Regions from separate parts of the Homo sapiens genome. Here region 2 is linked to region 1. The links come from fine-mapping of genetic effects on gene expression. A gene starts in region 1. The other region holds a variant in brackets. All regions are shown on one strand. Distances are between the middles of the regions.

Region 1 (5,377 bases):
CAGGGTCTCATCTGCCTTGGTCATGTGATACGGTTTGGCTGTGTCCCCACCCGAATCTCAACTTGAATTGTATCTCCCAGAATTCCCACATGTTGTGGGAGGGACCCAGGGAGAGGTTATTTAACAAAATATATTAATTCACATATAAATTAATATGATTTGTGAAACCTCTTTCTAACATCTCAAATATATTTACTAATGAGAAAAATCTTTTTTTAAATTGTCAAAACCTGTGTCTCAACTTTTGGCTCAAAAACTGCAGTCCTGCTGTCTGCAGTGGCTTTGTGAGTTGCCTTAGGGAAGAACCAAGCAGGGAGGACAGACCCTGCAGACCAGGCTGGGGTGAGGGTGTGGCTCTTGTCTCCTGGCCCCCACATGTTCAAGAAGAAGGTGCTGGGGCCTCATCTTGGCCCTTTGCCTCTTGCCTCTGCACTGTTCCCTTAGGATGGATCTGGGACAGAGCTAATGGAGGCTCTTCTGGCGTGTCCTGAGGACTTTGGCTCAATCTTGGTGAGTTTAGCTCCTCTGAGTTCTTCTTAATTCTCCTTGGGGGCCAGTAGTTGCAGATGGCTAGGAGAAGGTGGGGCAGCTCTGGTGCTCTCTGCACTGAGGAAGCACTCCTGCTGCCCTGTGCGTGCTGCTGTGGATGCTGAGTGCAGTCTGGACAGGGTTGCCAGCCAGGGCTCCAGGTGTTCCCTTCCTGTACGTGTGATCAGCTCCTCCACCACAGGAAATGCTCCCAGTCACCCACCTCCCACCCTCCACCCTCCACCCTCCACCCTCCGTCCTCCACCCTCCACTGCAGTTCTTCCCAGCTTCATTTGCGGCTGCCCAGGGAATAATTCCAGGGATATAGTAATGTCTGGTGTCTGGACGGTCTCCATGGGATTAAAAAAGTAGCTGGTTTGCATTTCGGAGACAAAACAACCCTGCAGCACGGAGTCAAACACTGCTTCTTCGCGGGAGATGCGTCCTGTCAGGTGAACACCAGCAAATCAAAACCCAATTCAGCAGAGGGATGATTTTCGCCTTCCGGAAGATGAAATCACGAAAGCTCAGAGACGGCGCGCACTCCGTAGAAAGCCCAAATCAAATTATTCTGTGGCCTGTGTAGATTTCCTGTGCCTGGCACCCAGCTGCCTGCATACAGGAAGTGCTCATTACAGGCACAGCAGCAGATGTCAGCCCCAAAGTGTCCATTTTACTAGCTGGTGTTTCAGCATCTGTCACGGGGATCAACAAAGCATGACAGCCGCCAATGTGCCTCCGTGTGGACTTTTGTGATGCTGTATTTTCTCTTGAGAGGGGCCCCTGATTCTGGACAGAATGCACTGGGTAAGTCTTTACGACTTCGTAGCCCCAGGCTCCTGGCCCAGGCAGGATGAGGAAAGGATGCTGCCCCAGGATCGCCCGAAACGTTTGGTTTGTTTTGTGTGGCTGGACGTGGCCGAGTCCCTGCGGCCCCAGCAGCTCTCAGGCTTCCCTGCCCGGCTGCTGCCTCAGGGCTGCGCTGAGCTCAGGCCAGAGCAGCTTCCAGGGCCTCATTTCAGTTGTTTTTATCATCTATGAGTTATCCAGTGTTTCCAATAAATCACATTCCAGGGCAAGCAGTGCAGAGATGTGGGCCCTTATTTCCTCTCCCAGGCTGATAACAATGAACAAGTGATTTCCTGTCCAAAGCTGGGTACTCCAGCGAAATAAGAAGTCCTATCTCCAGGAAAATAACACTGTCTCTCTCTCAGCCCCAACTCCAGCACACCAAGCATGGACCGTCTCTGGCCCTTGGGCAAGCTGGAGCAGCCTTTCATTTCCTCTCTGCCTATTCATGCACGCCCCACCCATCTCCCAGTCCAGGCTGTGATCCTCACCACCCAGCAAGCAGGCGAGGCAGGGCTAGGAACCCATTTTACAGGTGAGAAAAGTGAGTTTGCCAGACATTAAGTGACATGGCCAGGGTCTCACCGGCAGTAAGTGGACAGGGCCAGGCCAGGTCGTCTCTGTGTTCCTAGGAGACCCTGTGATGACCACTCAGCCCCCTCTGCTGCTGCTGGTTGAGGTGAGAGGTGCTTATAACTCAGAGATCTTTGTCATTTGGGTTCTAAAAGCAAACTCCACCTTGTGACGCGCACCCCAATCCGCCAGCAGCTTCAGAAGCAGCATCTACCTGTAAGCTGCGCGGTCTCCCTCTCCCATCTCAACAACCTTCCTGTGTGCGGCTTCCCTCTCGGATCTGCACAACCCCCTTGTTGAGAAGAGGCAGCAGGAGCAGTGTGGGCGGTCATTGCCCTATTTTACAGATGAAGAGTCAGGGCATTTAAACAATTTGGTATGGATCTATACATAAGAGGGTGGAAGAGGCCAGAGGAGACCTAGACCTACTTATCTAAAACCCAGTCACTGATGCTGGGACACAGAACTGTCCTTCCTCGTCTGCCCCCTCCCTGCTCACGCTGTATTGGTGGAGACCTTGTCTCTCTTGGTGCCGTGGGAACAGCGCTGGGCCCACCCATCAAGGGCTCCCTGGAAGCGTGCTGAGCGTGTGGCATGAGGAAAGAGTCACCAGCCACCCACGTTGCCTCCACACTGGGTGTCATTGTGACCTTAGCAGACAACAGGGTCCTCCCGAGGAGAGAACACAGTAGGCACACTGGATGTGGGGAGAGGGTCCAAAAGCCCCAAGCAGGGGGCAGGTCTGGGCAGAGGAGAAGGCGCTGTGTCTGTGGTGGCACTGGATGCCTCGGAAGGTGTGTGGCCTCCCTCCATGGCTGCCCAGGACCCAGGGTGCTGACCGTCTCTCCTGGAGTATGGCAGGGCCCAGGGGGCTGAGGCAGGGCCCCTTTTGGCAAATTCTTCACTCATAGAGGTTTCATGTCTTTCTCTGTAAAATGAGGATGCGAACATAGTTTGTCTTTCAGGATAGCTGTGATTAGAACACGTGTGTAAAGCGCCTGTCATGGCAGCGTCCTTCTCCTGGCGGCAAGTCTTCACTTGCAAAACAAGTCCTTTTAGGTACAGCAAAAACTGCTGCACGCAAGGGGGTGGAGGGGAACGATGGAAGGCGGTGTTGAAGGGTGGGGTGGGGAGTGTGCAGAGGCACTGGAAACAAACTTTTCCAATTTCTGTTATGCCTAGGAACAGGCTTTGTGACAGCTGCTGCTATCCAGTCATCTTTAGAGCCCTGGAGTCCTCGCCAAGGGCACGGGCTCCCTTTGTGGTCCTGGAATAATGGGGCCTGCCTGGCACTCTCAGATTGCGTGGGGATCCGCTGGACTTAGGGTAAGGCTTTTGTGGGATAAACTGCAGTGGCGCTAGATCAATTGTCAAGGTTTGGCCGACTCATTTGAGAGACTGGGTTCACGCCGTGCCATTTCTTCTTCCCGTTGCAAGGCTCTGCAAGGAATGTGGTGTCAGAATTTTAGCGCCTCGTATTTCCCACAAATGATAGCAGTAAGCTAACCGCGCGATAGAGACAGCGCTTCATGTTGTGCAATTTGATTTGCTGAGATTCCCAGCTCTTGCGTCTTTGAAACGGCGGCTCTGTGCAGAGATGAGATGGTGTTCCCAGCTCATCGCAGCGTGCGTGGTAATCTTATGTTCAGGCACACACTCTTTTTGGAGAAAACATACATTCTTTAGTATTCATGTGGATTTCACAGCAGTAATGAGGAAACTCTATTCCTTAGAGAATGTTTTTAATGTTAAAAAAAAAAGGATGGCATTCTTGGGAGGCATTTTAGTTTTCCCGTTTTTATTTTCTGACGGTTTTCATAGACTAAAGACTGAGAATGCAGGAATACCTTATCTTATTCCAGAAATTATTTTTACCCAGACCTGTTGATTTTCCCCTTACATTTGTATAGATGTTACACTCTATCATATTTAGCTTAAACATAGACTGAGCTCTCCTGGCTGTGTTACGAGGGCAACTGACTCTAGGAATTGCTGCTTTTCTTGATTTCCCAGAGCTTTGTGTTTCCCCATCCCCGAATCTCCCCACACCCCGTCATATTCAAAACACGTCACTGCTGCAAGATCACGTGTTTTATCTGCTCTCTATTATTATTTAGTAATTCTATTTTGTAGCTGAACCTGGTATTCCATCAGGGTGTGTAGTGCGAGCATGAATGGAGCCGATTTATTGTCCTCCCAATTAACTAATTTTTCTAACCCAACTTAGTTGTTTTCTTTAATACATTCTTCTATAGAACTTAATATGTGCAGGCCTTCTTTTTAGGGCTTTTCATCTATTAACTTATATAATCCTCACAACCACCCAGTAAGAGAGATATTATTATCTTTATTTGACTGGCGAAGAAATGTAAAGCAAAGCCAAGTTAAGGAACTTGCTCAGGGTCACACAGCTGCTCGATGATGGAAACAGGGCTCCCTCTGGACGGCCTGGCTGTGAGACCTGGGCTCTGGGTCTCTGCTCGGCCTCCCGCAGATGTGAGTGCCAAACAGTGTTAAGGTTGATCTTCCTATCTGCAGCTTCCACACCTGCAATTCAATCACCATAGATGGAAAATATTCAGGAAAAAAAAAACAGCACAACAAAAACTAATACAAATAAAACCGATACACTCTAATGACAACTATTGACGTGGGATTTGCGTTGTATTAGCTATTACAGGTAATCTGGAGATGACTTGAAGTATATGAGAGGATGTGTGTAGACTTTATCCAAATACAGCACCGTTTTATATCAGGACTTGAGCATTCTCAGATTTTGGTACCTGCAGGGAGTCCTGAAACCAGTCCCTCGTGGGGATCCAGGGATGACTGTCTAGGCTGACTGCTGGTATATACTGGGCATGTTTCTGGGTCTCTGTTCTAGTCTAGTGATCACTGTGTGTATTTTTGCCCTAGTACTTCACCCATTTACTTATTGCCACTTTATTTCAGCCTGAAGTATCCTATACGCATCCATGTTATTATTTTTAAAAAATTTCCTTGCTTTTTTTTGCTTTTCATTTTTCTAGACAACATTTATAATCAATTTTGCTTACAAAATTCTATTGGAAGTTTGAGTTGCATCAAATTCATAAATTAGTTTGGCAAAAACGTACATCTTCTTAATATTTCTTTTTAGATATGGAATATACTGTATTTCTCCATTTGTTCAAATATTTTCTATGGTGCTCTCTTGGGCTTATGGATTTAATTATTTGAGCCTGACAGACTTCTTGTAAGATTAATTTCCAGGTACTCAGTTTTAAAATTGTGAATAGAATTCTTTTCCCATTGTTTCTCTAACTGTTAATGCTGATATGTAGGAAAACGACTGCTTTTTATGTTCCTATTAAAATTTTTTTAAAAATTAGTATAATTTTACATTATTTTTCTTAGGTAAGCGATGATATCAAATTTGAATAATGTC
Region 2 (5,377 bases), 20 kb after region 1:
TCCTGTGCCAGTGCCTGCCTGGAGAAGGCGAGGGCAGTGGGACTGCGACAGGGTCTCTGAGAGGATGGAGGAGCAGCGTGGAGCCGGGCGCCATGGCCCTAAACGCTGGTGGTGCTGGCTCGGGAGGAATGAGACCTTGGCACCATGCAGCCACATTCCTGTTGGAGCCATGCTAGCGATTTGGAGAAGAATCCATGTGTGTAACTGAATAGCTGAGTTGGAAGCAGATGATTGAGGGTCTTATCAGGAGTCTGGTGAAGCTGCCCTTGCCTTTCCTTCCACACTGAGCAGACCAGATCTTTCTGGGAGTTGATATGTTGAGAATAATACATGTAAACCCATTTTAAACCCATTTTTCAAGAGCAGGAAAAGGCGTAAGTCATACACTGTGAGGCCACCTGAAGAAGACACGTACGTGTAAATAAAATGCAAATAACGAATCCTGAGAGCTCCCCTGCAGGAACTGTGGGACCCCTGCTTCACAGCTGAGCCCCGAGGCTGCTGCAGGGCTGACCCCAGGGGCGGGTGAGGGATGCTGGCGAGTGGGGCTGTGGGGCCCTTTCGGGGTTCCTGCCCTCCGGGCCCCTCCTCGGTCTGGCCAGGGTCTCTGCTGGGACAGGCCTTGTCTGGACAATCATAGAATTCCCGAGACCCTCTGAGGTGGACAGGGCTTGGCAGACCTGGGTCTAGTGGCTGCTGCCCTGAGGCCTCCCGGGTCTCTTTGCAAGTGGAAGTGGAGCGGAGAGGGGTGGCGGGCCTGCTCTCCCTGAGGCTGCGCTGCTCTCTCCAGCCCTCCCTCTCCAGCATTCACTCACCCCCAGGCTTCCCCTTGTCTTGCCTCTGCTGTCTCTGCCTTTCCCCTCGATCTCCCTCTTTCCTTCTTCCCTTCTCTATCCATGGTCTGGTCTTTTCTTTCCCCGTCTTTTTTAAACTGAGGTGTAAATAAGTGAAGAGACTGTCTCTGAGATTCCAGTGCCCTATCTCTAGAGAGAAGACCCTCCTTCTGCCCGTCCTTTCACCCTCCTTCCGCCTGTCCTTTCAGCATCCAGCCACTTGGTGGGGGCGGCTTTTGCAAAGTGGGTCTGTCAGCGCCTCACCCCCGCCCCAGCGTAGCTCTCTAGGTGTGCAGGAGTCAAACACAGCCACGATAGGTAGGCAAATCCTCACGCGAGTTCACAGGAAAGGCCTTCCTTTTCTTGCATTGTGTAAGCTTTCAGCTGCCAAGAGTTGGATGTGCCGACGTTTTTTGATGGTACGCGCACTAGACACAGGCATGACACATCAAGTGGAATTCACAGCCAGGATTTTCCAGAGGGGGCTTATTACTGGTGGGTGCCTGTAAGGAGAGGTGGGATGGCTTCTCCGCAGCAAGACGTTCCGGATGAGTTCTTTAGTTTTCGTGAGGGGATATCGGCCGCCTCCCTCAGTGCCACTGCTAATAAAGGCATAGACTCCTGTTTTCATGAACAGCACAGAAACCTGCACCCCAGATTCTTCTCAGCAAACAGGGGGTACTCAGGGCACCCTAAAGGTGGATGGAAACCATCTCGGGTGGGGGGAGTGCCGAGCTGCCCACGACCTGCACCCCACGTTCTTCTCAGTGAGCAGAGGGTACTCAGGGCACCCTAAAGGCTGATGGAAACCATCTTCGGGTGGGGGGTGCTGAGCTGCCCACGACCTGCACCCCAGATTCTTCTCAGCAAGCAGGGAGTACTCAGGGCACCCTAAAGGTGGATGGAAACCATCTCGGTGGGGGGAGTGCCAAGCTGCCCACGACCTGCATCCCAGATTCTTCTCAGCGAGCAGGGGTACTCAGGGCACCCTAAAGGTGGATAGAAACCATCTCCAGGTGGGGGGTGCCGAGCTGCCCCCCACCTGCGCATCCAGGTCAGCACTTCCTGATGCAGAAGGTAAAGCATCCTTCATGATCTCAAAAACCTTCAGTACCCCGACCCCAAAGCCCCACTTATTGCTGGCCACGTTTTAACATTTGTTGATTGAGAATAAAGCATAAAGGAAACTAAAACCATCGTGCATTTATTTATAGTTTTAAAATGGATTTTTATTTTATAAAATGCAGCAGCCTCTGTGCATACCTGGAAACAGCCCAGTATTGAGTCTATAGCGAATTCTTAGGATCACATGGATTCGTGGGACCCTCGCGATAGCTCCATGGTTTCCCAGGATGTGACTATCCATGAATTCTGTAGGGTGGAATCTGTTGCTCTGGATCTTTGAAATGTCTCCCTAAACTCGGCCTTGTAGGAGGATAGGCCATTACATTCAGTGGCAAAAACTGCAATTACTTTTGCACCAACCTAATATATACATTTTCTCTCTATCTTTCCTTCCGTACAGAAAACTTCCCCTGCTGAATTGCACTCTGTGCGATCCATGGGTCCCAAGGGGCCACAGGAGGTGCCCTGGAACCTGCCTCCAGGGAGGTTCTAGAGGACATTATTTATCACGCGGCTCAGGCGGGGCTCCTGGCTGCCAGCAATAGAAGCCTGTTCTGGCTGAGCTCAGGTGAAAAGGAGCTTCTGCAGGGATATTGGGTGGGCTTTGGTCTCCAGCTCTGACAGAGTCCTCGGTCCTGGACTCACCCTCCCACATTAAACAACCATAAAATTGGACAACATTTATGAGGCAACTGATTTCAGGTGTGAACAACAGGTAGTGCAAGACTCCAAGGAAGAGGAGGAGGTGTGCGCCCCATAGTTCCCTGGCTCTCAGCCCGGTTACAGCTTCCCTGTGGCACCACAAGCGGAAGTCCAAGGGAGCCTGGTGGGGTCCCACCGACCCAAAGATGGTCCCACTGTCCTCGGTCCCACTGAGCCGAGGCCGCAAAGATCGGAATTTGGGGAATGTCAAAGTGCTAACTGCCAGTGCCTGGGAATGTGACCTGACGTGGAACAGGGTCTTTGCAGATGCAATTCAATTGAGGTCGCCTGAATTTAGGGCAGCCCTAAATCAATGACTGGTGTCCTTAGAAGAGAAGGGAGAGGGGGGTTTGGCACAGAGACGCAGGGATGGAGGCAGAGATTGGAGTGGTACATCTACAAGGCAAGGAGAGTCAAGGGTTGCCAAGTTAAAGGAGAGGTGTGTGTGCATAGTCTCTCTCAGAGCCTCTGGGAAGAACCAGCCAGGCCAACCCCTTGGTTTTGGACTTCTGGCCTCCAGGACGGTGAGAGAGAAATATCCATCATTTTAGCTGCCAAGTTTGTGGCACTTTGTTACACTAGCCCTGGGACACGA[A/G]TGCACTTCATCGCCAGGCGTGGTTTTAGATGTTATCTGCTTGGATTTGGTTCTGCTATCAAGTTACTGTTTTTATTGGCGATTTGAAGAGATTGTAAAAAACTATGTGACCACTGCTGCTACCTTCCCAGCACTGATTCGTTAGTTTCTGCTGTTGTTCACGTTGGATCCTTCTCCTTCAGGCCTTCTGCCCTTCTGTCTACTGTGGGGAAAAGAAAGAGAGATCAGATTGTTACTGTGTCTCTGTAGAAAGAAGTAGACATAGGAGACTCCATTTTGTTCTGTACTAAGAGAAATTCTTCTGCCTTGAAATGCTGTTAATCTGTAACCCCACCCCCAACCCCCTGCTCCCTGAAACATGTGCTGTGTCCACTCAGGGTTAAATGGATTAAGGGCGGTGCAAGATGTGCTTTGTTAAACAGATGCTTGAAGGCAGCAGGCTCGTTAAGAGTCATCACCACTCCCTAATCTCAAGTACCCAGGGACACAAACACTGCGGAAGGCCGCAGGGTCCTCTGCCTAGGAAAGCCAGGTATTGTCCAAGGTTTCTCCCCATGTGATAGCCTGAGATATGGCCTCAGCCCGACACTCGTAAAGGGTCTGTGCTGAGGAGGATTAGTAAAAGAGGAAGGGACGCCTCTTTGCAGTTGAGACAAGAGGAAGGCATCTGTCTCCTGCTCGTCCCTGGGCAATGGAATGTCTCCGTGTAAAACCCGATTGTATATTCCATCTACTGAGATAGGGGAAAACCGCCTTAGGGCTGGAGATGTGACAGGCGGGCAGCAATACTGCTCTTTAAGGCATTGAGATGTTTATGTGTATGCATATCTAAAGCACAGCACTTAATTCTTTACCTTGTTCATGATGCAGAGACCTTTGTTCACGTGTTCACCTGCTGACCTTCTCTCCACTATTATCCTATGATCCTGCCACATCCCCCTCTCCGAGAAACACCCAATAATGATCAATAGATACTAAGGGAACTCAGAGGCCAGCGTGGATCGTGGATCCTCCGTATGCTGAACACCGGTCCCCTGGGTCCCCTTTTTCTTTCTCTGTACTTTGTCTCTGTGTCTCTTTCTTTTCCAAGTCTCTCGTTCCACCTAACGAGAAACACCCACAGGTGTGGAGGGGCAACCCACCCCTTCTGCCTACCCTGGACTGCTGTCTCTCAGCCCGCTCCGTGGCTGTCACCCTGGGAATGAGTCTGCCACGGTCCCGGGAATCCTCTCCCTGCTCTGGGACCCTGGGTTTTCTGCGTCCTGTACTCTCTGTCTTTTGTTCATTCATTTGTTTTTTGTTTATGCTCTTTTTTGAGTCCAGTCTAAAACACTGTGTTTTTAGTCCTTGCACACCTGGAAATGGCTTTATTCTACGCAACGTGATCATTTTGCTGGCTGAAGAAATCAAAAGCTGAAGCGAGGCTCCATGGTTTTCGAGAAGCTGGTGCTGCTGAAATCCACACGCCACTCTCTTTCTTTTCTTTGCATGTGACCTGCTTTTCCTTTCTGGAAGTCTTTAAGATCTTTTATTTATTTATTTTGGTTGTTTAAAATTTTATACACAGTGGCGTGCATCCTCCCTCATTTACTCCGATGGGTACTCAGTGGGGCTTTTCAGGTGAGAAAAAATGTCTTGTATTGTTTCTTTGATCATCTCCTTCCATCCATCCTCTTTTTTGATGTTTCTATTAGTTAGATGTTGGACAGCCTGTGCTAATCCTCTACATCTTTAACATTTTCTCTGTTATTCTTCATCTCTAGCAGATTTCTTTTACTTTATTTTCCAATTTGTCCTTTGAATTTCATCTATCATCATTTTAATTTTTAAAGAACTTTCTTTTTCTTATTCTCTTGTATTCCTTAAAAAAAAAAAAGCAAATTCAATAGTTCCCTAGTCTGAGAGCATTTCTTGTATATAAATCTTTCTTCAATTTTTCTGTGTTTGTTTTATCATGTGTTTCCTCCTGATTCTGTTTCCCCTTTTGTTCTCTATTTCATGCTTGGCTGTCTGCTCATATTTAACAGCGAGGAACTAAACATTTATTGGAAGCTCCCTGTGCATGGCAGAGTTTGCCAACTGGTTGACCTCAGAGTCGGGTTATGGGGTAGTGTGACAGGTG

Which allele goes with the higher level. Alleles are on the strand shown, and positions count from the first base shown. SD is a standard deviation of normalised expression in the study named.
For the expression in thyroid of the gene that starts at base 2,545 in region 1, G is the high allele of the variant in region 2 and A is the other (large effect, 2.1 SD a copy in GTEx).

What was found. PIP is the estimated chance that this variant, and not a neighbour inherited with it, causes the effect.
Region 2: its variant is fine-mapped to the expression of LINC01250 in thyroid (GTEx, PIP above 0.99).

What each region holds. Positions count from the first base shown.
Region 1 is chr2:3,123,194-3,128,570 of GRCh38, reverse strand. It overlaps LINC01250 (long intergenic non-protein coding RNA 1250), which reads left to right and starts at 2,545. Exons shown (of 7, transcript NR_110228.1): 1 at 2,545-2,744; 2 at 2,916-3,009; 3 at 3,133-3,276. RefSeq lists a silencer at 1,000-1,164.
Region 2 is chr2:3,103,505-3,108,881 of GRCh38, reverse strand. All of the region lies in intron 3 of LINC01250 (long intergenic non-protein coding RNA 1250), which reads left to right. Among named protein-coding and RNA genes, the nearest start is that of LINC01250, 20 kb to the left of the region's middle. RefSeq lists enhancers at 1-187, 3,655-4,362. The variant A/G (reference allele first, on the strand shown) is at 3,256.